4 separate regions of the Homo sapiens genome follow, and regions 2, 3 and 4 are each linked to region 1. Evidence: fine-mapped expression QTL. A gene starts in region 1. Each other region holds a variant in brackets. All regions are shown on one strand. Distances are between the middles of the regions.

What was found.
Region 2: its variant is fine-mapped to the expression of STK10 in monocytes after LPS (Quach 2016, PIP 0.95).
Region 3: its variant is fine-mapped to the expression of STK10 in whole blood (TOPMed, PIP above 0.99).
Region 4: its variant is fine-mapped to the expression of STK10 in whole blood (GTEx, PIP 0.92).

Annotation. Positions count from the first base shown.
Region 1 is chr5:172,185,355-172,192,910 of GRCh38, reverse strand. It overlaps STK10 (serine/threonine kinase 10), which reads left to right and starts at 4,687. Exons shown (of 19, transcript NM_005990.4): 1 at 4,687-5,024. The coding sequence starts at 4,869. RefSeq lists enhancers at 3,927-4,702, 5,755-5,834, 6,495-6,544, 6,815-6,864 and silencers at 4,375-4,734, 5,035-5,084, 5,215-5,294.
Region 2 is chr5:172,130,312-172,137,867 of GRCh38, reverse strand. The region is part of intron 2 of STK10 (serine/threonine kinase 10); the gene reads left to right. Among named protein-coding and RNA genes, the nearest start is that of STK10, 54 kb to the left of the region's middle. The variant A/G (reference allele first, on the strand shown) is at 4,301.
Region 3 is chr5:172,061,004-172,068,559 of GRCh38, reverse strand. STK10 (serine/threonine kinase 10) reads left to right here. Exons shown (of 19, transcript NM_005990.4): 13 at 3,748-3,840; 14 at 7,292-7,421. Among named protein-coding and RNA genes, the nearest start is that of FBXW11, 58 kb to the right of the region's middle. RefSeq lists an enhancer at 1,742-1,791. The variant C/T (reference allele first, on the strand shown) is at 3,867.
Region 4 is chr5:172,148,394-172,155,949 of GRCh38, reverse strand. All of the region lies in intron 2 of STK10 (serine/threonine kinase 10), which reads left to right. Among named protein-coding and RNA genes, the nearest start is that of STK10, 36 kb to the left of the region's middle. RefSeq lists a silencer at 4,203-4,378 and enhancers at 4,863-5,072, 5,083-5,142. The variant G/A (reference allele first, on the strand shown) is at 3,980.

The DNA of each region.
Region 1 (7,556 bases):
CCCAATTTTTGTATTTTTAGTAGAGATGAGGTTTAACCATGTTGGCCAGGGTGGTCTTGATGCCTGCCCTCAAGTGATCCACCCGCCTTGGCCTCACAAAGTGCTGGGAGTACGGGTATGAGCCACTGTGCCCTGACATTAATTTTTTTTTTCTTTTTTCTTTTTTTTTTTTTTGAGACAGGATCTCACTCTGTCTCCTAGGCTGGAGTGCAGTGGTATGGTCATACCTCACTGCAGCCTTGAATCCCAGGCTCAAGCTATCCTCCCACCTCCACCTCCTCATAGCTGGGACTATGCCCATGTGCTACCACGTTGTATTTTTTGTAGAGATAGGATCTTGCTACATTGCCAAGGCTGGTCTTGAACTCCTGGCCTCAAGCTATCCTCCCACCACAGCCTTCCAAAGTGTTGGGATTACAGGTGTGAGCCATGGTGCCCAGCCCCTCCTCTGTCTTAATTTTCTACTCCCTACTCACTCCCAAATAAACCACTTACACTCAAATCCTTGCCTCAGGGTCAGTCTCTAAGGGAATCCAACCTAAGAATACTATAAAATGCTTTTTCTGTGACTATTAAGACTATGTGATTTTTCTCCTTTACTCTGCCAATGCAGTGCTATTACAGTAGATTTTCTGATGTAGAACCATTCTTTTATTCCTGGATAAACCTTTTGTGGTTACGATATTTTTATTCACCTCTGGTTTGATCTTGCTAGCATTTGTATTTTCCCTGTCTTTTTAAGAACTGAAATTAGGCCGGGCGTGATGGCTCACACATGTAATCCCAGTACTTTGGGAGGCTGAGGCGGGCGGATCACGAGGTCAAGAGATTGAGACCATCCTGGCCAACATGGTGAAACCTCATCTCCACTAAAAATACAAAAATTAGCCGGGCGTGGTGGCACGTTCCTGTAGTCCCAGCTACTTGGGAGGCTGAAGCGGGAGAATCGCTTGAATCTGGGAGGTGGAGGTTGCAGTGAGGTGAGATCACACCATTGCACTCCAGCCTGGCGACACAGCAAGACTCTCTCTGTCAAAAAAAAAAAAAAAAAAAAATGAAATGAAATTAGTCTACAATTTTCTTTCTCTCTCTCTCTTTCCTCTCCTTCCCTTCCTTTTTAAGACAGGGTCTCACTGGAGACCAGGCTGGTGCAGCGGTGAGATCACTGTTCACTGCAGCCTCGGCCTCCTGGGCTCAAGGAATCCTCCTGCCTCAACCTCCTGAGTAGCTGGGACCACTGGTGTGCACCACCACGCCTGGCTAATTTTTTGACTTTTTGTAGAAACAGGGTCTCACTTTATAGCTCTGGCTGGTATGGAACTCCTGGGCTCAAGTGATCCTCCCACCTCAGCCTCCCAAAGTGCTGGAATTACAGGTGTAAGCCACTGTGCCTGGCTTACAATTTTCTTTTACTGTCCTTATCTAGTAATAGTAAAACTCATCTTATAAAATAAATTGGCAGATTTCCTTCATTTTCTATCTTTTAAAATAATTTATATAAAGAAAGAAATTATTTGTAAAACCACACAGACTGATGTCTTTCACCAAGAACAAGCTTTTGATTCTTGATTTTTGTGGTTGTTGTTTTTTGGGTTTTTGTTTGTTTGTTTTTGTTTAGAGACAGAGTCTCACTGTGTTGCCCAGGCTCGAGTGCAGTGGTGTGATCTCGGCTCACTGCAACCTCCGTCTCCTAGGTTGAAGGGATTCTTGTGCCTGAGTCTCATGAGTAGTTGGGACCACAGGCACGCACCACCACACCCGACTAATTTTTGTATTTTTAGTAGAGACAGAGTTTCACCATGTTGCCCAGGCTGGTCTCGAACTCCTGACCTCAGGTGATTCACCCGCCTCAGCCTCCCAACGTGCTGGGATTACAGGCATGAGCCACTGTGCCCGGCCTGATTCTTGATTTGATTTCTTTATTGGTTACTAGTTTATTTAGGTTTTTATTTCTTATTGAAATTATCTTTTACCTATCATTTATATTTTCTTCTCAATAATTACCCATTTTATGTAAATTAAAACATTTATTCACATAAATTTGTCTAAAATATCACTTTATGATTATCAAAATTTCTACAGTATCTAATCTGATGTTCTCTTTTCATTTTTTATTTCTTCCAGTGAATATTTCTTTCTTGCACCAATTTTTTTTTTTTCTTTTCTTTTTTTTTTTGAGACGGAGTCTTGCTCTGTTGCTCAGGCTAGATGGAGTGCAATGGTACGATCTCGGCTCACTGCAACCTCCATCTTCTGGGTTCAAGTGATTCTTCTGCCTCAGCCTCCCAAGTAGCTTGGGTTACAGGCGTGCACCACCCCGCCCGGCTAAGTTTTGTATTTTTCGTAGAGCTGGGGTTTTGCCATGTTGGCCAGGCTGGTCTTGAACTCCTAACCTCAGGTGATCCACCCAGCTTGGCCTCCCAAAATGCTGGGATTACAGGTGTGAGCCACCGTGCCCGACCCTTTTTTTCTTTTTCTTTGACTAGTCTTGTCTATTAGTTATTTCAAAGAAGTAGCTTTGATTCTATTGAACCTCAATGTATTTCTTACAATGCTATTGAGGTATAATTTACACATAAAATTCATCCATTTACAAAAATGAAAGTTTAAAATTCAATTATTTTTGGCAAATTTACCAAATTATGAAATTGTCACCATTGTGCAGTTTTAGGACATTTTCATCACCCCAATTAGACTGTTTATTGTTCATGTACAGTTAATTCCCATTTCACACCCAGCTCCAGGCAACCATTAATCTACTTTCTGTCTGTATGGATTTGCCTTTTCCAGACATTTCATATAAATGGAAATTTATAGAACACAGGGCCTTTTGTGTCTGGCTTCTTTGACTTAGTGTTATTGAATGAATGAACCTCTCCGTTTTTCTTTCCCTTCCTTCCTCCCTCCCTCCCTTCCTTCCTTCCCTCCCTCCCTCCCTCTTTCTCTCTCCTTCTCTTCCTTTCCTTTTTCTTTCTCTCTTTCTTCCTTTCCTTTCCCTTTCTCTTTCTTTCTTTCTCTCTTTCTCTCTTTCCTTTCTCTCTTTCTTCCTTTCCTTTCCCTTTCTCTTTCTTTCTTTCTCTCTTTCTCTCTTTCCTTTCTCTCTCTCTTTCTCTCGCTTGCTTGCTTTTCTGGAGCTCTCAGAGCTGGTCAGAGCCCTCCAGGCCTACAGCTTTCGTGGAGTCAGAGCCTTCATCTCCTAGTATGGAAGCAACCCTCTTGGTCTCCCCACCCGCTTCGTACAGTTGGCCAAATGGTCTGAAACAAATGAAAGACCTGCCTTTCAGCATGTTTTGGGAGGTTCAGACAGCGCCTGACTCAATGAGAACGGTCAGCGACGAGCGGCGTTTCCTTCTTTTAAAGACCCTCTACAATTCCAGGCACTCCTGCAGCTGTGGAAACATTCCGAACGGCTTAGCAACCAGGACACCCTCTGCGCCGACCACTACCAGCATCGCAGGCTTCTTGAGCTGGCTTTCCCAGTGGAAAACCATGCTTGGTGTTTGCACACTGTTCAAAGGATGTTTTCGAACAAAGCACCGAGGAAGGGGCGAAAACACCTCAACACAGCCGTTCTCTGGGGTTGGAGCTATTGAACTGTGACATTTGCGAAGACTCAACTTGTTTATGACACGGTCCAAATAATAACCCTTGCAGACTGCCCGCCCCCCCCCCCCACCCCCAGCACTCTCCTTAGATTCAGGTAAAAGCATGTTATAACCGTCTATAGGACAAACAGGCAACAGTAGCAGTGAAGTGACTCAAGTAGCCAGGATCGAGAATGAAGGTGCTCAAAGAAGACTTTAGTTTGATCTGTATGTAGTGCGCTCATCTTTTTTGAAACTAGGAAATTAAAAATTAGAATAAAGTTTTTATTTAATATGCAAATACATCCGCAAACCCATCAGGAAACATAAGAGAAATCAGTGCCAAAGGAGCTCTTTCTCCCAGCCCTCTAATCCTGGCAGGTTTGTGGATCGTGGACGGGGAGCCCCTGGAAAGGACCGCGCCGGGAAGCCGGGCCCTGCAGGGACTGGCCGCGGCTGCACCGGCGTTGCCCGTCGCACACTAGGAGGCAGCACCGCGCCGAGGAACCCGCAGCAGACGGGCAGCCAGCGTGTGTGCCTGGGGCGAGTGCCCTCGCCTGCCGGCGTCCCCATCGGAAAAGTGGGGGCGAGGGCAGCCTAGCGGAATAGCTGCGGGAGGATTAAATGAACGAGTGCAGGTTCACCTTCTGGGCGCTGACAACGATCCGTGGGCTCTCGCGAAATGCCAAGTCGCCGTCCCGCTTGCTCCCATAAAAGTTTTGGGAGCCACGCGGCGCGGCGGGCGGGCTCCTGAGTCCATGAGCGGTCCCACCGAGCGGTCCCCGAAGCTTCCCCAAAGCCCAGCCCGCGGCTCGCGGAGCGTGGTGTGGGGGGACTACAGTTTCCAGAGTGCCCTGCGGCGACGGGCGGAGCCGGGGAGCGCCCGCAGCCAATTAGGGGGTCCCGGGGCTCTGCCGGGGAGCGGCGGGTGGAGCCGGGCCGGTGGGCGGGCGCGGGGACGGTCCCCTGGAACGGGTCCGAGGCTCTCGCAGGCAGGGCTGGGCCGGGCAGGAGCTGCGAGGCCGGCACAAGGGAGGCGGCCCTGGGGACCTGACAGGGCGGGGGCGGGGGCGGGCACGCCGCCGCCTGCGCGGTTCCGGGTGCTCCCGGCGCGGCGCTGCCCAGGGCACACTTGACCGAGGTCGGGCTGCGGGGAAAGGCGGGTCTGGGGAGAACCCCGAGAGACGCGGCGTCCTCCAACTCCTCCTCCTTCTCCTCGCGGCCGCCGAAGCCACAGCCCGAGCCCGAGCCCGAGCCCGAGCCGGCGCCACCGCGCCCCCGGCCATGGCTTTTGCCAATTTCCGCCGCATCCTGCGCCTGTCTACCTTCGAGAAGAGAAAGTCCCGCGAATATGAGCACGTCCGCCGCGACCTGGACCCCAACGAGGTGTGGGAGATCGTGGGCGAGCTGGGCGACGGCGCCTTCGGCAAGGTTTACAAGGTGAGGGCGCTGAGGTGGGTGGCCGGACGCGCGTCGAGGGGCTCCGGAAGGAAGGGATGCCTGAGCCGGACCCGGCCAGCCTGGCTCCGGCTCCGAGGGCTGCCCGGCGCTGAATTCGGGGTCCCTGGCCCTCATCCCGATGACTCTTGTTTTTTGGGGGGAACATCACTCGGCCCGGCCGAGTCCCTGCGCTCTGGGCGCCCCCTCCGGGCACGGTTGCCGCCCCCACCCTAGCCCTGTTTCGGAGCACTTCCTGTGTGTCCTGCACTGCGCTCGGCGCCGCACGGGGAGACAAAGGGGCGTTGACAGGACCTCAGCATCCGAGAGGGCCACTCGAGGGACCTTCCAGGGACGTTCCGTAAAACGGCGATACGGGCACACTTTTTTTTTTAAGAGAGACCACAGATGCTGTGGGAATATCGAGGCGATGTGGACCGAGAAACTCGGCTGCGCTTGGACGGGTTGGGAGCTAGGGACACATCTGAAGATGAGCCAGAGACAGGGAAGTGGGGTGGGCGAGGGGTGGCCCATGGACTGAGAGGTGGGGCTTGGAAAGGTGGGTTGGGGCTGGTCAGAGGGGGAGGTCAGGATCTGGTGAATGCTGAGCCTGGGGGAACAGATTTGATTCCGTCGGTCTGAGTCACAGCTGGGGAGTCTCCCAGCCTGCAGTCACCTCTCCCCTAGAGGAAGACGCGGCAGAGAGCTTTTGTGGAGTGGGTGGGGCAGAGCTGATTGAGTCTAGAGAAGTGTGGCAGCAGGACGTTGGTTTCTGCTCCTGGGAGCTAATTCTGAGGTGGTGAGTTGTTTTAGGGAGCCAACACCTACAGCTTGACTCCCCCCTTTCCCCTAAGAAAATTTTTACTGGGAGACGCCCACTTGTTAAATTGGTGTATACCTCCAGGAGAGCACCTCTCTTCTAAGCCACTATCCTCCTCCTTGGGGCTCCTGTAGCTTGTAGGGCACTCTGACCCTAGGATTGCCGTTCTATGAGGCTGGACCACAGAGAAGGCTTCTCCAGGCCTTCTCCTCTGACTTGGAAGTGGTCTATCGCCTAGTTACCGAAGTAGTTCCTAGATGACCGGTGTTATAATAGCATCATTTGGGAGCTTGTCAGAAGTGAACAATCTCATGCCCAGCCCCGACCTGCTGAATTAGAGTCTACGTTTTAATAAGATCCCAGGTGATTCCTAAGCAAATAGGTTTGAGAAGTACTGCCCTAGAGGCTTGGAGTGGTGGCGTTTTTTCTTTTTTCTTTTCTTTTTTTTGAGACAGGGTTTCCCTCTGTTGCTCAGTCTGGAGTGCAGTGGCCCGATCTCGGCTCACTGCAACCTCTGCCTCCTGGGCTCAAGCAATTCTCCTGCCTCAGCCTTCGGAGTAGCTAGGTCTACAGGTGCACACCACAGCCCGGCTAATTTTTGTATTTTTTGTAGACTTGGGGTTTCGCCACGTAGCCCAGGCTTGTCATGAACTCCTGAGCTCATGAAATCAGCTCGTTTCAGCCTCCCAAAGTGTTGGGATTACAGCGGTGAGCCACCCTGCCTGACCTGGAGCGGTGGCAATTTTGAGACCAACCAGGCCCACTCAGTGTCTTTTTTTATTTTTATTTTTTGTGAGACGGAGTCTCACTCTATTGCCCAAGCTGGAGTGCGGTGGTTTGATCTCGGCCCTCACTGCAACCTCCACTTCCTGGGTTCAAGCAATTCTCCTACCTCAGCCTCCCAAGTAGCTGGGATTGCAGGCACACACCACCATGCCTGGCTAATTTTTGTTTTTTTAGTAGAGACGGGGTTTCACCATGTTGTCTAAGCTGGTCTCGAACTCCTGACCTCAGTTGATCCACCCACCTCGGCCTCCCAAAGTGTTGGGATTACAGGCGTGAGCCACTGTGCCTGGCCTGGTGCCTGTTTTGTTTCCTTGCCACCTCCCCTCTGAGCCCACACTTCCTGTTATGGGGTAGGGAGAGGTCTTGTGATCCGAGAGGCAGTGCTTTTGGACTGCCCCGACTTGCTGTCCTCCTTTGCCTGAGGGCCTTGCCCATATTTGAGGGCAGCCAGCTCACCCTGTCCTCAGCACGTCTTTTCTTTACTCTCCTCAGAGCTGCATCTTCTTCCTGGTGGCACCAGAGAACGATCCTCAGCCTTGCAACTGTCTCTGGACACTGCCAGTGTCCTTGACTGCCTTAGACAGAGCCTGCTCCTGCAGCTGTGCTCTGACTACTGTGAGGGCAGCTGGACCCCTGTGGTCAGCTCACCACAGGACCCACTTTCTCCAGAAGGTTCAGTTGGTGTTTTTAGCGTATGCTAAACATATGGGTTTTTTGGGCCGGGCGTGGTGGCTCACGCCTGTAATCCTAGCACTTTGGGAGGCTGAAGCAGGCAGATCATGAGGTCAGGAAATTCAGACCATACTGGCCAACATGGTGAAACCCTGTCTCTACTAAAAATACAGAAATTAGCCGGGCATGGTGATGCATGCCCGTAATCCCAGCGTCTCAGGAGGCTGAGGCAAGAGAAACGTTTGAACCAGGGAGGT
Region 2 (7,556 bases), 55 kb after region 1:
CAGGCTGGAGTACTGTGGTGTGATCTCGGCTCACTGCAAGCTCCGCCTCCAGGTTCATGCCATTCTCCTGCCTCAGCCTCCCGAGTAGCTGGGACTACAGGCGCCCGCCACCACGCCCGGCTAATTTTTTTTTTTTTTTTTTTGTATTTTTAGTAAAGATGGGATTTCACTGTGTTAGCCAGGATGGTCTCGATCTCCTGACCTTGTGATCCGCCCGCCTCGGCCTCCCAAAGTGCTGAGATTACAGGCGTGAGCCACTGCGCCTGGCCCAATATATGGCATTTTAATATATGACCTTTATATATGTTGAGGTTGTTTTCTTCTATTTTGTTTGTTGAGTATTTCTCATGAAGTGGTGTTTAACTGTGCCAAATGCTTTTTCTGCTTTAACTGAGATGATCACGTAGTTTTTTTTTATCTCCTTTCATCGTGTTAATGTGGTATATTACATTGATAGATTTTTGAATGTTGAACCATCCTTACATTCCAGGAATAAATCCCACTTGATCATGGTGTAATCTCTCTTTTAATAGTTGAATATGATTCGCAAGTATTTTGTTGAGTATCTTTGCATCAGTATGTCAGAGGCATTCAAACCAGAGTGACTTTATCTTGAATAGGGGCTGGGTAAAATGAGGCTGAGACCTGCTGGGCCACATTCTCAAGAGGTTAGGTATTCTTAGCCCTAAGACGTTTATAGTTAAGGGAACAGAAACAGACCCAGGATATAACAGACCCAGGAACTGTCCTGATGTCCTTATATCTTAAGAACAAAAACATTCCTAGTTTTAAAATAAGTCTCACTTTAAAGATAATAATATATGCACAGTGAGAACACGTGGACACTGGGAGGGGAACATCACACACCGGGGCCTGTTCGGGGGTGGGGGGCTAGGGGAGGGATAGCATTAGGAGAAATATTTAATGTAGATGATGGGTTGATGGGTGCAGCAAACCATCATGGCATGTGTATACCTATGTAACTAACCTACATGTTCTGCACGTGTATCCCAGAACTTAAAGTATAAAAAAAAAAAATAGATAATAATAAAGGCTCTCATGAAAGACAGTAGTTACACAAAGATTAGCAATCCTTTATCACAAACCCTTGTAGTAGAGCACATCTCCTCCATGATTTTTGTTATATATAAGCAAGCATTGTACCTAGGTGGGCACATTCCTCCTCTTATTTTTTGGAATGCCATGCTCTGCCTATGGAATAGCTATTCTTTCACTTCTTTACTTTATTTATTTATTTATTTATTTATTTTGAGACGGAGTCTCGCTCTGTCGCCCAGGCTGGAGTGCAGTGGCGCGATCTTGGCTCACTGCAAGCTCTGCCTCCTGGGTTCACACCATTCTCCTGCCTCAGCCTCCCGAGTAGCTGGGACTACAGGTGCCTGCCACCACACCTGGCTAAGTTTTTGTATTTTTAATAGAGATGGGGTTTCACCATGTTGGGCAGGCTGGTCTCGAACTCCTGACCTCACGTGTCCACCCGCCTCGGCCTTCCAAAGTGCTGGGATGACAGGCGTGAGCCACTGCGCCCAGCCTGTGTGGAGGTTTTAAATTACTGTTCAGTCTCCTTAGAAGTTACATCTATTCAGGTCTTCTGTTTCTTCATGATCCAGGCTTGCCAGGTTGTGTTTCTAGGAATTTTTCTATTTCATCTAGTTTATTCAATTTGTTGTCATACAGTTGTTCATAGTACTCTCTGATAGTCCTTTCTGTCAAATCAGTAGTAATGTGTCCCCTTTTTCATTTCTGATTGTAGTAATTTGAGGTTTTTTTTTCTTTTTTTCTTTTTCTTTCTTTTGTTTGTTTGTTTATTTATTTATTTTGAGACAGAGTCTCACTCTGTTGCCTAGGCTGGAGTGCAGTGGTGTGATCTCGGCTCACTGCAACCTCCACCTCCTGGGTTCAAGCGATTCTCATACCTCAGCCACCCAAGTAGCTGGGATTACAGGCGTGTGCCACCAAGCCTGGCAAATTTTTGTATTTTTAGTAGAGACAGGGTTTCTCTATGTTGGCCAGGCTGGTCTTGAATGCCTGACCTCAGGTGATCCACCCCAAAGCACTGGGATTATAGGCGTGAGCCAACGTGCCTGGCCATAATTTGAGTTTTTAACTTAGTCTGTTTAGCTAATGAACATATTTTAAAAATTCTTTTGGATCTATATGTAGGAGGGAATTGCCATTTGGATCAATAGTAATGCTACGTTTAACATATTGAGGAACTGCCGGACTCTCCCAAAGTGCCTGGACTGCACATTTTACATTACCACCATCAGTGTATGAAGGTTCCAATTTCTCCATATTCCTGCCAACACTTACTGTTGTTTATCTTTTGTTTTTTGAGATGGAGTCTCGCTCTGTCTCCCAGGCTGGAGTGCAGTGACGTGATCTTGGCTCACTGCAACCTCCGCCTCCCAGGTTCAAATGATTCTTTTGTCTCAGCCTCCTAAGTAACTGGGACTACAGGCGTGTGCCACCACACCTGGCTAACTTTTGTATTTTTATTAGAGACAGGGTTTCACTATGTCGGCCAGGCTGTCTCAAACTCCTGACCTCAGGTGATCCACCCACCTCAGCCTCCCAAAGTGCTGGGATCACAGACGTGAGCCACCGTGCCCAGCCTTGTTCATGTTTTTAATTCTGAGCATTCTAGCATGTGTGAAGTGGTATCTCATTTTGGTTTTGATTAGTGTTGCCCTAATGACTAGTAATGTTGAGCATCTTTTCATATGCTTAGTGGCCATTTGTACATCTTCTTTGGAAAAACATCTATTCAAATCTTTTGCCTATTTTAAGATTGGGTTATTTGCTCTTTTATTTTTGAGTGCTATGAGTTCTTTATGTATTCTGGATACTAGTCCTTTATCAGATATATGATTTGCAAATATTTTCCATTTGTGGGTTACTTTTTCTTTTTCTTTTTTTTTTTGAGATAAAGTCTTGTTCTTTCTCCCAGGCTGGCGTGCAGTGTCACAATTATTGCACGCTGCATTCTCGACCTCCCAAGCTCAAATGATCCTTCCACCTCAGCCCCCCAAGTATCTGGGACCACAGGTGTGTGCCACCATACCCCGCTAATGAAAATTTTTTTCCTTTTTTTTTTTTTTGTAAATATGAGGTCTCCCTATGTTGCCCAGGCTGGTCTCAAACTCCTGGGCTCAAGTGATCCTCCCATCTCAGCCTCCCAGAATGCTGAGATTACAGGCGTGAGCCATTGTACCCAGCCTTTACTTTCTTGATACTGTCCTTTGATGCACAAATATGTTCAATGTTGATGAAGTCCAGGGTATCTATTTTTTCTTTGGTTGCTTGTGCTTTTGGTGTCATTTTTGTCCATCTGGTCTTTTACTAACCCCCATATACCCTTTGACACATATTTAGAGGTCCTCAAAATTTTTATTTAAAGATGGGAGGATATGGAAATATTTTTTTAAAAAACTCATTGAAACAGACTGCAGTACGGTCTTTAATAATGAAGATCCCCAAAGCTTCTGTGTGAATACTCAGGGCTTCTCAAACCATCTCTTGGTAAAGGCTGATGAGGATGATCATACATCCTACCAAAGCCCCTCACTCTTTGGTTTGAGGCAAGATAAAAAGGAACACTGGTGATGAAATTTAGGATAACAAGGAGCATAAAAGAGGCAGTACTTCTGCCAGTTTGCCCCCAAGTTTCTCTACCAACATCTTACAGTGCCTTTTGTTAAGGGGAGGACAGATGTGGTCCCAGGGTCCAGGCCTCTTGCTCTTATAAATTCCCATTGAGCAGTAGTTCTCAAAGTGTGACCAGGGGTCCAGCAACAGCAGCAGCATCTGAGCACTTGTTGGAAACCAGATTCTTGGACCTTGCTTCAGACCCACTGAATCAGAAGCTCTGGAGTGGGACCCAGTGATCTGTTTTAACAAGCACTCTGCTGAACGTTCAAGTTGGAGAGCCGTTGGTGTAGCATTTTCAGCTGGTACAACCTGGAGTCTGCCACCTGGAGAGTGTGGTTACTCATCATCTCCTGCCAAGCGTGGGATCAGGTACTTTTGGTAACAAGTGACAGCAAACCTTAAACTAACCTACTAAACAGCGCAGAAATTAATTCGTTTGCATATTCTGCCTAAAAAGTCAGTAGGGAGCAGGCTTGTTCTCCGTTTTCCTGTGATTCTCTCTGTCTTCCTCTGTGTATTAGCTTTGTCTTCACACCCACTTCTCTCGTGGTTGCAACATGGTTTCCTGCAACCATCAGAGTTGTGTGCTTCCTAATTAGCTCCAGAGTGAGACGACGTGGCATTCCAC[A/G]CCATCAAGCACAACTCACCAGCTTAGCTCTGATGACACCAGCCCTGAGTCAGGGCACGAGGCAGAAAATTTTCCTGACTGGCTTAGCACCCTGCTTCTACCCCTCCCTTGCAGGGGATGAGTAAGTCCTACCCAGTTCTCATGGCTATTTCACAAAGGGGAAGGAAGACATGGTGTATGTGGAGGGGGAGGTAGCCATGGTGCCCAGGACATCAGGACTCATGAAATGGCCTCTTCGCTGTTTGTCCCCAACCCACTGTTTTTTCCTTAATAATGCATCTAGAGGGATCTTTCCAAAGCAAAAGCCTGTCTACAACACCTCTTGCTTAAACCCTTTGGTGTATCTCCCCAGACACACACGCACACACGCACACACAGCTCTCCAGATTAGGTTCATACTTTGAGATGTTCAAGTTCTAGTTCTAATTGACCTCCAGCCTGCTGGATTCCCATCCTTTGGAACCCCATGGAATGCTCCGCCATTACCCGCTTCCACGCTTTTCCCTGCTGCCCCACCTCTGCTTCTGTGTTCTGCCAGGAGTGCCTTTACCCTTCCCCACGTGGTAAATTCACCCTTCAAAACTCAGCCTGGATATCTGCTTCCTCTGGGATAGCTCTAAGGCAGGTTAATGACCGTGTCCACAGGCTTCTGGGTTACATAGTCACCGTGTGCCTGCACCACTCATTTCTATATCTCCCTCAGCTGGTGATTTTGGGGCAGGGACCTGTTTGATTCTCCCTGGGTCCTCAGTCCCCAGGCTTGCCACGCACTAGGAGCTCAGATAGTGTTTGTTGATCACATACTACTTTTGTGTCCCCTACTGTTGCCTAGCAAAGTAGGGCCCCTGGTAGACACTCAGTTTATAATGATCAATGCATTAAACTGACCACAAATCTCAGTTCTTCAGGTCCTAGGAAAACCGTGAGCCACCTGCAAATATAGGCTGCTTATGCCCTTGACAGGTTCAGGGAATCCGTCCTTTTAGCACTGGGGCGGTTTCACTTTGGACTTGATCAGGGCTTAGAGGCCTTTAGCTTTCCGATCCTGAGGAGCCTCCCTTTATCCAGGAAGCAGGGGACTGGACCACTGGGACCTTCATCACGGGTGGGCACGGATTCCCCATCCCAATCAGAAGAATAGCTGTATCTGTAGCAGTAGGTTATTCTAGGCCAGTTCTTTCCATTAAAAAAAAACTAAAGCCCCTAGGTTGAATTAAAAAAATTAAAAAAATTAAAAATTTAAAAGTCATGTTTATTTCTAATATACAATTTGATAATACATATTTATTGAATATAATACATAAAAGTACAAACTACCTGTAATCCTCCTATGGGTTTTGTGCTTCCAGTCTTTTTTCTAAGCATGCATATGTAGTAATTTCCTAAAGCATTGAGATTATTATTTTATTCATATTTATTACCATCGTCTCAGTGCATTTTATGCTGCTATAACAGAATACCTGACACTGGGTAATTTGTAAACAATAGAAATTTATCTAGCTCATGGCTCTGGAGGCTGGGAAGTCCAAGGTTGAGGGCCCTGCATCTGGCGAGGGCCTTCTTGCCATCGTGGAAGGTGGAAAGAGCAAGAGGGCATGCAGGAGAGAGCCAGCAACTGAACTCACAGCCTCTAGCCCTTTTATAATCAGCACTAATTCATTCATGAGGGTGGAGCCCTCATGGTCTAAACACCTCCCATTACTGTTGGTCCCACCTCCCAACACTGTTACATTGGGGATTAAGTTTCCAACACATGCCTTTTGGGAGATACATTCAACTATTATTTTATCTGTTACTGTTGAGACTATTGTTTTATTAATTAAACCCCATGTATTTCTGCAAAAAGCCCTGACAAGTTTATAATACCAATCCCCTGTAGCCCTCCTGCCACTGATAAGCTGAAGGTAAAAATGTTAAGACCCAGATACTAAAAAAAGCAAGTAAGGCCTGGGAGTCAAACCAAAGCTGAGGAACTTAACCCAGAGCTTCCCAGCAGCCAAGGCAAAAAAATAAATAAATAAAAGGGAAGCTCAAGGGGTTGTGGAGCTCTTGAACTAAAGAAGAGGAAGCAAGCCAGGTTGTCAGAATGCACGAGCTTTCCTGGTGCTGACCTCTGGAGAGGGCACAGGGACGTTGTATAAGAGTGTTGTGTAAGGGACAGTTTCACTGAAAGATGCAGGAACTGCCTGGGTTTGGTCACTTCTCATACTGACTCTTAAGAATAGCTGATGACAGGCCAGGCGCGGGGGCTCACGCCTGTAATCCCAGCACTTTGGGAGGCTGAGGCAGGCAGATCGCGAGGTCAGGAGATCGAGACCATCCTGGCTAACACGGTGAAACCCTGCCTCTACCAAAAAATACAAAAAATTAGCCGGATGTGGTGGCGGGCGCCTGTAGTCCCAGCTACTCGGGAGGCTGAGGCAGGAGAATGGCGTGAACCTGGGAGGCGGAGCTTGCAGTGAGCCAAGATCGCGCCACTGCACTCCAGCCTGGGCAACAGAGTGAGACTCTGTCAAAAAAAAAAAAAAAAAAAAACAGCTGATGGCATGTCCATAACTTTTAGTTCTCAAAAATAAATAAATACATAAAGAAATTGTAGTTCTGGGAAGACATTTCTTTGTTTTGTTTTGTTTTCCCTAGGAATCAGACTGAGAGGAAGGCATATTTTTGTAGGAATCCTAAGTGACGTGATCTAAGCATGAAACTTACTGGTGATTTCATTTGGTAGAGATTTAACAAACACATATTAACTGTGTGGCTTTTGTGCTGTTCTTTCATGTAAGGAATCTCATTTAACTTTCTCAATGAAGTTGGAGGCAAGAGATGATTAGGCCATTTTACAGATGGGGAAATGGAGGCTCAGGGAGATTGACTTATCCAGGGTCATGTAGTCAATTAAGTGGCACACCAGGACTCGACCCCAGGTTTACAATCTTTTCCTCTGTGTTGGCACCTTGTTGGAGAAGCGGGAAGTGTCTGACCTTGTTACATATCCACGGTGTATTAGGACTGGGTTTTTCGGTTTTTTTTTTTTTTGGAGACAGAGTCTTGCTCTGTCACCCAGACTGGAATGCTGTGGTGTGATCTCCGCTCACTGCAGCCTCCGCCTCCTGGGTTCAAGTGATTCTCCTGCCTCCGCCTCCCAAGTAGCTGGGATTACAGGTGCCCGCCACCACACCTGGCTACTTTTTGTATTTTTAGTGGAGACGGGGTTTTGCCATTTTGGCCAGGCTGGTCTCGAACTCCTGACCTCAGG
Region 3 (7,556 bases), 120 kb after region 1:
TTTATCCAGATATTTACCATTTCTGTCACTCTTTCTTTTTTACTGAAGATACAAGTTTTCTTCTCAGCTCACTTCTTTTCAACCTGAAGAACTTCCAATGTAGCCTTTCTTCCTGACCACAAAGTTTCCTACTTTCCTTCATCTGAAAATGTCTTTATTTTACTTTCATTTCTGAAGGATAGTTTCACTAGACATACCTATCTCAGCACTTTTTTTTTTTGAGACAGAGTCTCGCTCTGTCGCCCAGACTGGAGTGCAGTGGTGTGATCTCGGCTCACTGCAACCTGTGCCTCCCGGGTTCAAGCAGTTCTCTGCTTCAGCCTCCTGAGTAGCTGGGATTACAGGCGCCTGTCACCATACCCAGCTAATTTTTTTGTATTTTTAGTAGAGACAGGGTTTCACCATCTTGGCCAGGCTTGTCTTGAATTCCTGACCTCGTGATCCACCCGCCTTAGCCTCCCCAAGTGCTGGGATTACAGGCGTGAGCCACCGCGCCCGGCCCTTCTTTCAGCACTTTAAGGATGATACTCCGGTGGCTTTTGGCCTCCCTAGTGTCTGTTGGGGAATCCATGGTCACTGGAGTCATTATTTTCCTGTGTTAATATGTCACATTTCTCTTAACTACTCTCCTGAATTTTTTTAGTGTTTGGTTTTCAAGTTTTATTATGATATGTATGAGGGTGGTTTTCTTTTAATTTAACCTGTTTGGGTTTCATTGAGCTTTTGATAATTTTCCCATAAGTTCCTGAAACCTTCCTCTTTTTCATCTTTTTTTCTCTCTATCATTCATATTATATAATCTTTATTAATCAGTCTTCAAATGAATGACCCTCCTCTGTGATCACCATTCCACTATTGTTTTATTTTAATTTCAGACATTGTATTGTTTAGTTTTAAATTTTCTAATTTTTTAAAAAATAGTTTTTCTGGGCTGTGAACTTTCATCTTTCCATACTTGAAATATTAAAGGGCTTTACCTCATGGAGTACAGTTATAATAGCTGCTTTAAAGTTTCTTTCTGCCAGTCCCAACATCTGTGTCATCCCGGAGCTGACATCTATTGATTGCCTTTTTCTTTGAAAATTGGTTCTATTTCCTGATTCTTTGTATGTAGAGTAATTTTTTATTGTTTCCTTGGCATTTTATTCTATTTATTTATTTATTTATTTATTTATTTATTTATTTATTCTATTTATTTATTTAGAGACAGGGTCTTGCTCTGTTGCCCAGGATGGAGTGCAGTGGTGCAGTCACAGCTCACTGCAGCCTCAACCTCCTGGGCTAAAGTGATCCTCCCACTTCAGCCTCCTGAGTAGCTGAGACTACAGGTGCACTGGCACCACACCCAGCTAGTTTTTTGTATTAATATTTTCTGTAGAGACGGGTTTTTGCCATGTTGCCCAGGTTGGTCTCGAACTCCTGAGCTCAGGTGATCCACCCAGCCTCCCAAAGTGCTGGGATTACAGGTGTGAGCCACCGTGCCTGGCTATCCCTGACATTTCAGTGTTATGTTCTGTAGACTGTGGGTCCGTATTATAATCTTTTGAAGAATGTAGATGTTTTTTGTTTAACAGGAAACCCTGCAGACCACAGGTTCTGTCTGATCTTCTGTGGGTAGTGGTTTCAGTGTTAGTTTAGTTGGGTCTTTGCTTTTTTTGTTTTTTGCTATACTGCTTGGCACCTGTCTCACTCATACTCAGCTCAGGGGTGAATCTCTGTGTTCACACACACAGTTAGGAATTTCCCTTTTCCTGCGCTCTTCTCTTTGTTTTTGAGACGGAGTCTCGCTCTGTCCCTCAGGCTGGAAGTTCAATGGTATGATCTCGGCTCACTGCAACCTACGCCGCCTGAGTTCAAGTGATTCTCATGCCTCCTTCCCAAGGAGCTGGGATAACTGGCATGTGCCACCACACCCGGCTGATTTTTGTATTTTTAGTAGAGACAGGGTTTCACCATGTTGCCCAAGGCTGGTCTTGAACTCCTGACCTCAAGTGATCCACCTTTCTCGGCCTCCCAAAGTGCTGGGATTACAGGCGTGAGCCACTCCGCCTGGCCTTCTGTGCCCTTCTCTTTGGGATTCATCCCATACTCACTGGACTGCACAGGCCTCTTTTCCTGGTTCTCTGGCCAGAAACACAAGGTTTCTTACAGAGTTTTAGCCAGCTTTTCTACTGCACTACTGGGCAGGTCTGGAATTGGTGCAAAGCCAGGAGAGCAAAAGGGTGAAAAAAAAAATAGGAAACTTATCCCCTGTACCAGTCTTGTCTGCAAGTTTTGACTCCCCTTCGTGCCACCTGCTTTTGTTTGGTTTTCAGAGTCCTCAAGTAGCTGCTTTCATATTTGATGCAGAGTTTTCACTGTAATTATCAGGAGACACAGCCTGTCTTGGCTTACCTCACCATGCCAGAACTCCCTGGAATGCTCTCTTTTTGATCACAGGCGGGCCTTTCCCCCCATCAGATGCTCTTAAGAGCCCTCTGTCAATGCAGGTTTTGGGTTATTAGGCACCTGTGAAGGTGTGGGTTTCTTGGGAAGGAACTGTCTGAGGAACTCTAAGGTCCTTAGAGAGAAGTGTCATGGATCTCTTCTCCCTCCTGTTATAAAAGACAGAAACCCAATCCCAGCTGGCTTAAGAAGGAAAGAACACTTGCTGGCGTCTGACCAGGAGGGCAGGAGTGTTGCCAGGGATTCTTCTTCTCATCTCTGGACATTGCTTCCCTGTGCTGAGTTCATCTCAGGCAGTCCCCTCCAGGGGCTGACAAGGTGACTCACCTTGGCCTTCATCCCTCCAGTTTAACAACCCCAGAGGACAGCAGGTAGCTTTTCTTCAGTAGTTCCAGCAAACGTCCCAAAGCTCACACTGGACCAGTGAGGGTCACGTGCTTATCTCTGAATCAGTTCCTGAGGCTAAGGGCATGGAATATGCTGCTTGGCCAGCCTGGATCAGATGCTCAGCCCAGGGCCAGCGGGGGTAGGGATGTCAGTTCACCTGGACCTCAGGGGCTGACAAGGGGGATACTAAAGTATGCATTCTCGGCCAGGCGCGGTGGCACATGCCTGTAATCCCTGCACTTTGGGAGGCCCAGGCAGGCAGATCACTTGAGGTCAGGAGTTTGAGACCAGCCTGGCCAACATGGTGAAACCCCATCTCTACTAAAAATACAAAAATTAGCCAGGTGTGGTGGTGCACACTTGTAATGCCAGCTACTTGGAAGGCTTAGGCAGGAGAATTGCTTGATTCCATCTCAAAAAAAAAAAAAAAAAAAAGTGCATTTTCAGCCCGGCTAGTGTTACCCTAAAGGAAGCAAAATAACTGAAATATGACAATGGTTTGTCAGATTGACGATATTGTCTGTTGGACTAGTATTTCATGGGGGGAGAGGGATTAGGGAAAAATGTCTAAAAGAACTTCTGTAGGGACTGTAATTTTTTAAAAAGGTTGAGAAACACTTCCCTGCAGGAAACTGAGGTGCTGTTACCAGAAGAGGGGGGTGGATACCAAGCTGCTGAAAACAGCACCTGCCCACTCTGGGGGAGTTGGAAGCTGAAACCAGCGGCAGGCAGGAGTAGGCCAGTGTGGAGCACCTGCTCAGAGGGGCTTGGTGGGGAGCCGCGTAGGGTGCTGGCCGCTGCAAAGCTGAGCCTCTTCTTTGGTTTCTCTGGCCCGGGGGTTCTGCGTTGAAGATTATACTGTAGGAAGCATGGAGAGGACCCTGACCCAGCTACTCTCTGCTGTCTCTGCTGCAGGTGAAGAACGAGGTGGAGAAGCTCCCCCGACAGCAGCGGAAGGAAAGCATGAAGCAGAAGATGGAGGAGCACACGCAGAAAAAGCAGCTTCTTGTGAGTCCCTGGCCTCAGCTGGGGAG[C/T]GCAGGGGCTGGTGCGAGACCTGGAATGGTGACCAGGCCCCCTCTCTGCCTTTGCCCAATCCCTGCCCCTCAAATACCCCGTTCTGAATACCTAAATCTGGCCTCATCCTTCATGGCCCCATTATCCCCTCCTCCATGCAGCCTTCCTCGATTGCCCTGCCTCCATCTGGAAGTAAGCTCTTCCATCTCTGGATACCCCAACACTTTACATTGACCACCTCCCAAACCCTTAGCACCTCCTACCTTGTTTTAGGGTTATTTATTTGTAAGTCACATCTCCTTGACCAACCCAGTATATTCCCCTGCCCACTTGGCATCTTTTAAGTCTGAAGGACATCAAACTTGTGATGTCCCAGACCTGGTCCTGTTATGCTCTGAGGGGGTGCCATTTTCCTTCCTTTCTGGCCCATCATTCCTGACGCCTCCTTTCCCTCCAGTCCTTCGTCACCTCCAGAAGCATGGTATGTATATTTCTTATCTCCTGTCTCTGGATCTATGAACTCGTCACCATCTCCATGATCCCCCAGCCACTGTCCAGTGGCCTCCCAGCGAGGCTTCCTGTAGCTGTTTTTCCCCTGCAGTTTCTTCTCTCCTGCCTGCGTGTGATCAATGTGAATTCCAAGTCTGATAATAGCACCCTTCCCCCCACAGCCCTGTGCCTTAAAACCCTTCAGTGGCTCCCACATTGTCCCTAAGATAAGCGCCGCCTCTTTGCTGTGCCCTGGCCGGCCTCCCCAGCCTTCTTTTCATCCTTTGCCGGAATGCTCCTATTTTCCCCCACGAGGGGGTCTTTGTGTGTTCTGCTTCCTCAGCCCCCAAAGCAAAGAATTTTTGAGTCCATATTTAGAAATGCTTTGTATATTACCTGCTTCAGCATTCATAGCTTACTATGGTAGGAGCTGTTCATTTTCCCATTCGCAGAAGAGGAAACAAAGGCTGAGAGAGGTAACATTGCTGAGTTCACATTCAGGGAGGGGGTCGAGGCCTCAAGCTTGTGTTCTCTCCGGGACACCCTATGACCTGTCTGTCCCATTACAGCACGATTAGGAAGAGAACGCAGGACTGGTGAGGGCGGGGCACACAGGCCCTCATCCACGCAGAGGGACAGCAGATTGGCCTGGAGGAGGCAGTTGCATGGAGAGCTTTGAAGATGTACACATCCTTTGGCTTGGATTTTCTGCTTCTAGAAATCCTGAGGGAATCTGAAAATCCTGAAGGAGTTATCACAGAGGTTCACAAATACTTAGCTACCAGAATATGAAGTAGCGCTATTTAAAATAGATAAAACCTAGAGACACCCTGTTGTTTATTGGATAAATAACATCCATAGCATGAAATATTTTCAGCCATTCAAACACATGTGATAGAAGATCACATTATTTATTTATCTGAGACGGAGTTTCAAAACTGGGAGTTTCATCCCAGTTTTTTTTTTTTCTTTTTTGAGATGGAGTCTCACTCTGTTGCCCAGGCTGGAGTGCGGTGGCACGATCTCAGCTCACTGCAACCTCTGCCTCCTGGGTTCAAGCAATTCTCCTGCCTCAGCCTCCCAAGTAGCTGGGACTACAGGTGCCTGCCATCACGCCTAGCTAATTTTTGTATTTTTAATAGAGTTAGGGTTTCACCATGTTGGCCAGGCTGGTCTCGAACTCCTGACCTCAGGTGATCCGCCTGCCTCAGTCTCCCAACGTGCTGGGATTACAGGCATGAGCCACTGCACCTGGCCAGAAGATCACATTATAACATGGAAAGATTTCTTAAAATAATTTTTTAAAATTGTGGTAAAATAGTCATAACATAAAGTTTACCATCTTTACCATTATTAAGTGTACAGTGTAGTGGCGTTAAGCCTATTCACATTGTGCGGCCATCTCCGCCATCTATCTCCAGAACTCTCTTGTCTTGTAAAACTGAAACTCTGCACCCATCAAACCGTAATTCTCCATTTCTTCTCCTCCAACCCTTGGTAACTTTATTCTGCTTTCCCTATGAATTTGACTACTCTAGGTACCTCATGTAAGTGGAATCATAGAATATTTGTCCTTTTGTGACTGGCTTATTTCACTTAGCGTAATGTCCTCAAGGTTCATCCATGTTGTTGCATGTGTCAGAATTTCCTTCCTTTTTAAGGCTGAATAATATTCCATTGTGTGGATATAACACATGATTTATCCATTTATCTATCGACGGACACGTGGGCTGTTTTCATCCCTTGACTGTTGTGAATAATGCTGCTGTGAACTTGGGTGCACACATATCTCTTTGAGCCCTTTTTAATAATTTTTGTAACACAGCAATAACAATAGCTATAGATACACTTGTATAGACATACCTACCGCAGCTGCCAACTCTGGGGGATAAGATGAGTGGAGAGTTTTACTAATTCCGTGGTTTCTAAATTTTTTTATTTTAATTTTTTTTACCCTTTATTATGGAAAATTAAAAACACAGGAATAGGGAGGCCGAGGCGGGTGGATCACTTGAGGCCAGGAGTTGAAGACCAGCCTGGCCAACATGGTGAAACCCCGTCTCTACTAAAAATACAAAAGTTAGCCAGGTGTGGTGGTGTGCACCTGTAGTCCCAGCTACTCAGGAAGCTGAGATGGGAGAATCACTTGAACCTGGGAGGCTGAGGTTGCAGCGAGCTGAGATCACGCCATTGCACTCCAGCCTGGGTGACAGAGCGAGACTCTCTCTCAAAAAAAAAAAAAGAAAAAAGAAAAGTAACATGGGAATAGGTATAATGAACTACCATATACCTGTCACCTAATCTCAGTAATATCACCTCATGTCCACTCATTCACTCCCTGACCCCAAGGTATTCTTTTTAATCAAATCCCAGACATCATATTATTTTACCTGTCAAACATCACAGAAATAACTACCATACCATAAACACACCTAGCAAATTCAACAATAATTGCTGAACAACGTCATGTTGTCAGTATTCCAGTTTCCAATCACTCCTGTAATCCCAGCACTTTGGGAGGACGAGGCAGGCAGATCACAAGGTCAGGAGTTTGAGACCAGCCTGACCAACATGGTGAAACCCCGTCTCTACTAAAAATACAAAAATTAGTCAGGAGTGGTGGTGCTCACCTATAATCCCAGCTACTCAGGAGGCTGAGGCAGGAGAATCACTTGAACGCGGGAGGCAGAGGTTGCAGTGAGCCGAGATCATGCCACTGCACTCCAGCTCTGGTGACAGACCGAGACTGTTCTTTGATCCAGGATCCAGATGAAGCCCACATGTTGAAATTGGTTGATGCGTCTCTAAGTCTCCCTTAAATTTCTCCTCCACCAATTTCTTTTCTGTTCCTGCATTTTCTTCTCTGATCACGCGGGCTTTTCTCCCATAATAGGAAGAGACATGGAGGTGCCCAAGCCGGCTCTGGATAAAGGCCTGTCCTCCTCTCTCCCCACAGGACCGGGACTTTGTAGCCAAGCAGAAGGAGGACCTGGAGCTGGCCATGAAGAGGCTCACCACCGACAACAGGCGGGAGATCTGTGACAAGGAGCGCGAGTGCCTCATGAAGAAGCAGGAGCTCCTTCGAGGTGGGGGTGTGCAAGTGGCAGCGCTGTCTTGGCCCAGAGTCGCTGTGGACATCCCAGCCCTGGGAAGTGGGGTGGGCAACAAGAACCTCCCAGGCCTTCTCCATCCCCAAAACTAAACATCATTCTTCATGGGGA
Region 4 (7,556 bases), 37 kb after region 1:
GATCTTGGCTCACTACACCCTCCGCCTCCCGGCTTCAAGCAATTCTCCTGCCTCAGCCTCCTGAGTAGCTGGGATTATAGGCATGTGCCACCATGCCCAGCTAATTTTTGTATTTTTAGTAGAGATGGGGTTTTGCCGTGTTGGCCAGGCTGGTCTCGAACTCCTGACCTCAGGTGATCCGCTGGCCTTGGCCTCCCAAAGTGCTGGGATTACTGGTGTTAGCCACCATGCCCAGTCCTCTTCATTTTTTTTTTTTCTAATTCTTCCAAAGAAATCCATCTTCTGACTGTGCCCTTCTCTACTGTTGGGCATTTAGGCTATTTCCTTTTCTTTCTTTCTTTTTTTTATTTTTATTTTTATTTTGCTCTTATAAACAACTCTGTGATGGACATCTTTGGATTTTTTTGTGTGTCCTCTGAGAGCTTTTTTATGAGAATTTTTTTTTTTTTTTTGAGATGGAGTCTCACTCTGTTTTCCAGGCTGGAGTGCAGTGGCACGATCTCGGCTGACTGCAACCTCCGCCTCCTGGGTTCAAGCAATTCTCCTGCCTCAGCCTCCTAAGCAGCTGGGATTACAGGTGCATGCCACCACGCCTGGCTGCTTTTTATATTTTTAGTAGAGACGGGGTTTCACCGTCTTGGTCAGGCTCTTCTTGAACTCCTGACCTCAGGAGATCCACCTGCCTCGGCTGCCCAAAATGCTGGGATTACAGGCGTGAGGCACTGTGCCCAGCGAGAATTTTTAAGAGTCTTTAATGTCTATTGCCAAACTGGCCTCACAGAGCCACTTTTGATATTAACCAAAGGAGATCTCCCATTGACCCACCCACCCACCCAGCCACCCACTTTCTGTCCATTCATCTTCCTCTCTGTGCATACAGCATTTGTTGGCCTGCTGACTATGTACCCATTAAGAAAAATAGCTATTATGTTTCTATTCCTGTTATTGATTGTGGCTGGGTACCAAGTTCATAACTTTCCCAGGTCCAAAGATACTACTTATAGTAGCTAGCATTTATTGAGAGTTTACTGTGTGCTTGGCCTTTTGCTATGAGTTTCACTTGCATTATGTGGTTTAATCTTCATTCTGTGAGGTTGTTGCTTTATCCCATCTTACAAAAGAAAATGAGAAACAAAAAAGCTATGTGAGCTGCTCCCCAGGCCACACAGCTAGCAAGTGGCAGAGCTGGAAAACCAGGTAGAGCCAAACACAGTTTGTAACTAGACTGCGACTGTCATGCTGTTGTTTAAATAAATACGCTAGACTTTTCCGTCCCTAAATTGTCACTTTAGGCTGGTGCTTTCTCCTCCAGGCCCACTGCTGTGGCCAAGACCATTTCTTTCCCTCCTCTATTGTAGCTGCCCTGACAGCCTACATTTGTTACTTTGTAGAAGGCCCCAGCTCCTCCGATTTGCCTTTTAGACACTATGAGATCAAGGAAGGTGGCCCTGGAGCTGGGTAGATAAAGAGGGGGAAAGGATGGCAGGCAGGAGAGACAGCGTGGGCAGCGGTGTGGAGGCATGAAAGGTACAGCCTGTTTGGGAGGTGGCTAGTCTAGGGCCAGGGCAGCATGTGGTGAAAGATGAGGGTGGTAAAGTAATTGGGGGCCATGTTGTAGAAGGCCCTGCATGCCAAGGTGAAGACTTATCCCTCCATCTTTTACTGCAGTGGTTCTCAAAGTACAACCCTTGGATCAGCACACCCTGGATCTTTGTTAGACATGCAGGTTATCAGGCCCCTCCTGAGGCCCATTGAGTCAGTAACTGAGGTGAGGCCCAGCAATTGGCGTTTTAAGGTAGGGCCCAGCAATCTAAGTGACTCTGATGCTCGTTTAAGCTTGAGAATCACTGTTTTAGGTAATGGAGACCCAGTGGTACTTTTTTGCAGGGGAGAGGCATATTCTGTGTTACAGAAAGAAGTCAGGTTTGAGAGGACAAGAGAAAAACGTGGAGGCAGTTTGAGAAGTGGTAAGAATAGACTAGGCCAGAAGCCCAAGGATGTGATGTGGAACATCATCTGGTCAGGGGAGGCTTCAGAGGAAGGGACATTTGAACGGGGTCTTGCAGAATGCATAGGAGTCCTCTGGGGAGATAAGAGAAGGAAGAACAGTCAAAGTAGAGGGACCAGCAAATGGGCAAAAGTGTAGAAGGGAGAAGTCCAGAGATACAGGTTGAAGGATGCACCAACCCTTTGATATTTCCTTCTGTGTGATGGTTCTCAGGCGCATCTTGTGACCAGGCCTGGGCCCCTGTGGCTTTAGGAGCCCACTTTTCCATGTGGATATCTTTGACAAAACCAGTTCTGGACCTGGGGTCTGCTCTCAGGGACTTTGGGATGAGAAACTGGCTGTTCCCCAAGTGTCTTAGGTCCCTTCTGTAGCCATGGCAGACAGGGACAGACTTTCCCCCGAGTGGGGTGGAGGTCATTCACCACACCACCCCATGTGCAATTTGACAAGATTAGCTCATTTTTGTTCAGAATTTGTAATCATGGCAAAATCCGTCTGTGCTTCCTTATCACTACTTCTGCTTTTGAATATCAAATGGTGCAAGTTGGAGAAAAACAAGCCAAAATGCTCTAGACCAGTAGAACTATAATGTGAGCCACATGCATCATTTTACATTTCTTTCTTTCTTTCTTTCTTTCTTTCTTTCTTTCTTTTTGAGATGGAGTTTTGCTCCTGTTGCCCAGGCTGGAGTGCAATGGCGCGATTTCAGCTCACCACAACCTCTATCTCCTGTGTTCAAGAGATTCTCTTGCCTCAGCCTCCTGAGTAGCTGGGATTACAGGCATGCACCACTACCCCTGGCTAATTTTGTATTTTTAGTAGAGATGGGGTTTCTCCATGTTGGTCAGGCTGGTCTTGAACTCCCGACCTCAGGTGATCTGCCTGCCTCAGCCTCCCAAAGTGCTGGGATTACAGGCATGAGTCACTGCACCAGGCCTATATGTATAATTTTACATTTCTAACAGCCACATCCAAAAGAGCAAAAAGAAACAGATGAAATTAGTTTCCATAATATAATTTATTTAACCCAGTGTATAAAAATATGATCATTTTGACATGTGATCCATTGAAAGAGTTATTGAGCTATTTTACTTTTTTTCATTCTAAGTCTTCAAGTCCAGTGTATATTTTACACTTTTAACACATCTAAATTTGGGAGCTAAATTTTCATCAGAAGTCCTTGATCTGTGTTTAGATGTCATAAAATTTACAGTTGAGAAAGGTAGATTCACACACCCAAGTTGTTCCAACATTCTTAAACGTTTCCCAGTAACTGAACCAAGTCTCAGTTTTCAAATTTAAATGAATTAGAAGAGAATGGAATAATACATTTAGGTCTCTACCGTCGCCACATTTCGAACACTCAGTAGCACATGTGTTAGTGTCTCCCATATTGGACGGCATAGACAGTGAAGCTCTAGATGACTCCCAGGGCCCAAAATGAGTGACTGCAAGAAGGCCTGGGCTGACCTCGTGAATGTCCTCTGCTAATAGCTACCCCCATCCTCCACCCCCAGCCCTGAGCCAGATTTTGGTCTCTGGGCAAATCTTTCAATGGCCGGGGGATCTCTTTTCCAACATGTATTACAGGAGCAAGAGTGAGTTCTTTGGGAAGAAAAGCTCTGGTGTCTGGCATTTGGCCCATTTCTGAATGCACATATGTCCACCTGATCAGTTTCAAGCTACCAACTCGATGTCATTAACAGAGTTGGGAAGGCCTCTGGCCTCACGGAGCTCAAAGTCTAGTGGCAGAAACAGACGGTATGAAGGCCAGTGAAGAAGTAGATGAGAGGACTTGGGCAAGTGACAAGTGAGTGGAAGAAAAATCAGTGGGGAAATGCAGTAGGCATTCCTGGGTAGGGTCAGGAGCAGGTGCTGTAAACACGATGGACAGAGAAAGCCTCTCTCATGAGGTGACATTTTAGCTGAGAGCCAAAAGACCAGATGGAGGCAGACCTCCAAATGTGTGGG[G/A]GCAGAAAGTGCCAGGTAGAGGGAATCAGAAGTGCACAGGCCCTGAGGCAGGAGTCTGCAGAGGACCCCACAGAAGGTGTTGCGGCTGGCGCGTGGTGGAGGGAGAGCGGCAGAGTAACGTGAACCGAGGCTAGACTGTCTGCAGCACATGCTGCTGAGCAGCTACTAAGTGGAAGGCCCCATGGTGGGGGCTGGGGATTCATCAGTGAGCAAGAGGGAAACGGTCCTCATCCTCATGGAGCCTCCAGTCTACATGTGGGAGACAACTAACAGCGCATGAACACATAACTCCAGCAGTGATCAGGATGGATATAAAATTGTGAAGTGGGCCGGGCGCAGTGGCTCACGCCTGTAATCTCAGCACTTTGGGAGGCCGAGGTGGGTGGATCACGAATCAGGCGTTTGAGACCAGCCTGGCCAATATGGTGAAACCCCGTCTCTACTAAAAATACAAAAGTTAGCCGGGCGTGGTGGCGTGTGCCTGTAATCCCAGCTACTCAGGAGGGTGAGGCAGGAGAATTACTTGAACCCGGGAGGTGGAGGTTGCAATGAGCCAAAGATTGTGCCATTGCACTCCAGCCTGGGTGACAAGAGTGAGACTCTGACTCAATTAAAAAAAAAAAAGAAAAAGAAAAAAAAGAAAAACGCAAAGGTCGGCCTCTGAAGCCTGCAGGTTCGCAATCCGTCTCCTGCCTGCCACTTACTGTGAGACCAGAGCCAATTCCTTCTGTCCTTGTGCCTCAGTTTTCTCAACTGTAGAATGGGGATCTTCACAGTAGTGCCTGTAGGAATAATTGAGCTAATAGTTGTTTACAAATAGAAAAGGTCTATAACAGGGCTGGGCACACAGAAACTTCGGTAAGTATCAGCTGTCACCTTCATCGTGCCTCTCCTTCACTTTCTGTTCTCTTTGGTCCCCGGCACGGGGCCTGGTGTGAAATCTGTCCATGGTAGATATGCACTGGGGAGATGAAAGGAGACAGGACGTGCCTGCCCTTGGTGGGGCAGGGGTCTGTCGCGAGCAGCCAAAGTCCCTTTGGGGTGGCCCAGCCCAAGAACGCTCCCTAAGACTTCCTGATGAGGAAGTTGGCTGGCGCCGTGGTTACCCTCCCTGAAGGAGTGACTGTGGGCCTTTCTCAGTGTGGCTTCTTGCCTCAAACTGAGCATTCTGTAAAGAGGAAGTACTGGTCCCAGGATCAAGAGCAGGGCATGGATGGGATGAGCCTGCTGTCCACATGTGTCCCCATATGACCACACGTTGCTGGCCAGGGTTTTTGTGGCTTGTAGTCCTGGGCTCAGAGGCCAGCCCTTGGTCATTGACAGAGATTGCATATCTGACCTCAAAACAGCCAAAACTGTAAAGAGAATGTGACACCCGGAAGTAGCTGACAGTGCTGTGTACTTTAGAAAGTTGTTCAGTGTGGCAGAAGGGATCTGGGGCTGGAATCAGGAGACCTGAGTTCTTCTTTCTTTCTTTTTTTTTTTTTTTGAGGTGTTGTTTCGCTCTTGTTGCCCAGGCTGGAGTGCAGTGGCGTGATCTCGGCTCACTGCAACCTCTGCCTCCCAGGTTCAAGCGATTCTCCTGCCTCAGCTTCCCGACTAGCTGGGATTACAGGCATGCACCACCACACCCGGCTAATTTTTGTATTTTTAGTAGAGACGGGGTTTCGCCATGTTGGCCAGACTGTTCTTGAACTCCTGACCTCAGGTGATCCAACCTCCTCAGCCTCCCAAAGTGCTGGGATTACAGGCGTGAGCCACCATGCCCAGCCTAGGAGACCTGAGTTCTGCCTGGGACCAACTGGCTGTGTGACCCGAGATGAGCTTCCTTTCCTGGGCCTCTGTTTCCTAATCCATAACTCTAGGGGCTTGGAAGGGAGGATCCCAAGGAGGTCTTTCTTTCTTTTTTTTTTTTTTTTTTTTGAGACAAAGTTTTGTTCTTGTTGCCCAGGCTGGACTGCAATGGCGCGATCTCGGCTCCCTGCAACCTCTGCCTCCTGGGTTCAAGCGATTCTCCTGCCTCAGCCTCCCGAGTAGCTGGGATTACAGGTGTCTGCCACCACACCCAGCTAATTTTTTGTATATTTAGTAGAGACGAGGTTTCACCATGTTGACCAGGCTGGTCTTGAACTTCTGACCTCAGGTGATCCACCCGCCTCGGCCTCCCAAAGTGTTGGGATTACAGGCATGAGCCACCGCGCCCGGCCCAAGGAGGTCTTTCAACGGAGTCTGCCCATTTTATCCTGGCCCTTGTATCTCTGCAGTTCTGAAGTCTGGATCTGTGGTCACCTGGCCTGGGGCAGCCCTTTTTGGCAGTTTTGGGTGCCAGAACCCTTTCCATTTGCCGTGGGGACCTGGTCTTCCTCGGGCTCCCTGGCACTCACCAACCCCTGCCCTCTCTCTGGATTGGGGCACCCGGTTGTTGGGACACACACACACACACACACAGACACACACACACACACACACACACACGAGCACTTTGTAAAGCACTTTAAAGTCTGCACAGGCTTTGCAGCCCTGGAGGTGGGTGTATTATTACTGTATCGACATGCCCATTTTACAGAGGGGACAGACACCCTAAGGCTCAGGGAGGGAAAGTGGGGGAGGAGGCTGGCAGCTCCTTGGCCTAGAGGGTGAATCAGGAGGCAGGGGGTGGTAACAAAAGGAAGGAGGCAGCAACATGATGATGTGGATAGTTGGCCTCGTCAGGAATGTTTTCTGTGCTAGGCCTGTGCCGGGTGGGCTGTTTCCTGACTATCTCACCAAATCCTCACAGTTCTGTGGGATTGAGTTTTGTTTGTTTGCTTTTGTATTGCTCTGTCACCCAGGCTGGAGTGGAGTGGCATGATCTCAACTCACTGCAACCTCTGCCTCCCAGGCTCAAGCAATCCTCCCTCCTTAGCCTCCCAAGTAGCTGGGATTACAAGCATGTGCCACCACACCCAGACAATTTTTGTATTTTTTGTAGAGACAGGGCTGGTCTCCAACTACTGGACTCAAGCGATTTGCCTCCCTCCGCCTCCCAAAGTGCTGGGATTATAGGCGTGAGCCACCACGCCTGGCTCGAGATTGAGATGTTGTCACCCCCATTTTACAGATGTGAAGACCAAGGGTTAGAACGGTGGAGTGGAGAGGCTCGTCCCACATGTCAGAGCCAGGCTCCAGCCCAGGTCTGCCTAGCTCCAAAGCCTTCTCTCCTGCCCCCTGGAATGCCCCTCTCTGGGTGCCAGGCTCTGGGCATCACTGGGAACAGTTCAAAGGATGTAATCTGTGACCCCCACCCTTCCACTTGAGGGGCCATCGTCCGGCAGAATGTTTTTTGGCAGGGCTTGGTGGTGAGGAGGCCTGTGCCGGGGGACCTGTCCAGCTGCTCCCTTGGGCAGTGACCCGGGTGCGGTTGGTGGCCCAGAGCAGATGGAGCTGTGAAGCAGCAGGTGGATAACTGAGGGCTTTGCTGGGATCCCGCTGTTGGAATAGCCGGCCTGGGCTGTCTATCTCACATGCAGAGGAGCAAGGGTGATTGTCATTCCAGGATTCGCCCACCATGTCACCAAGCACGTCCATGTAGCCCTTC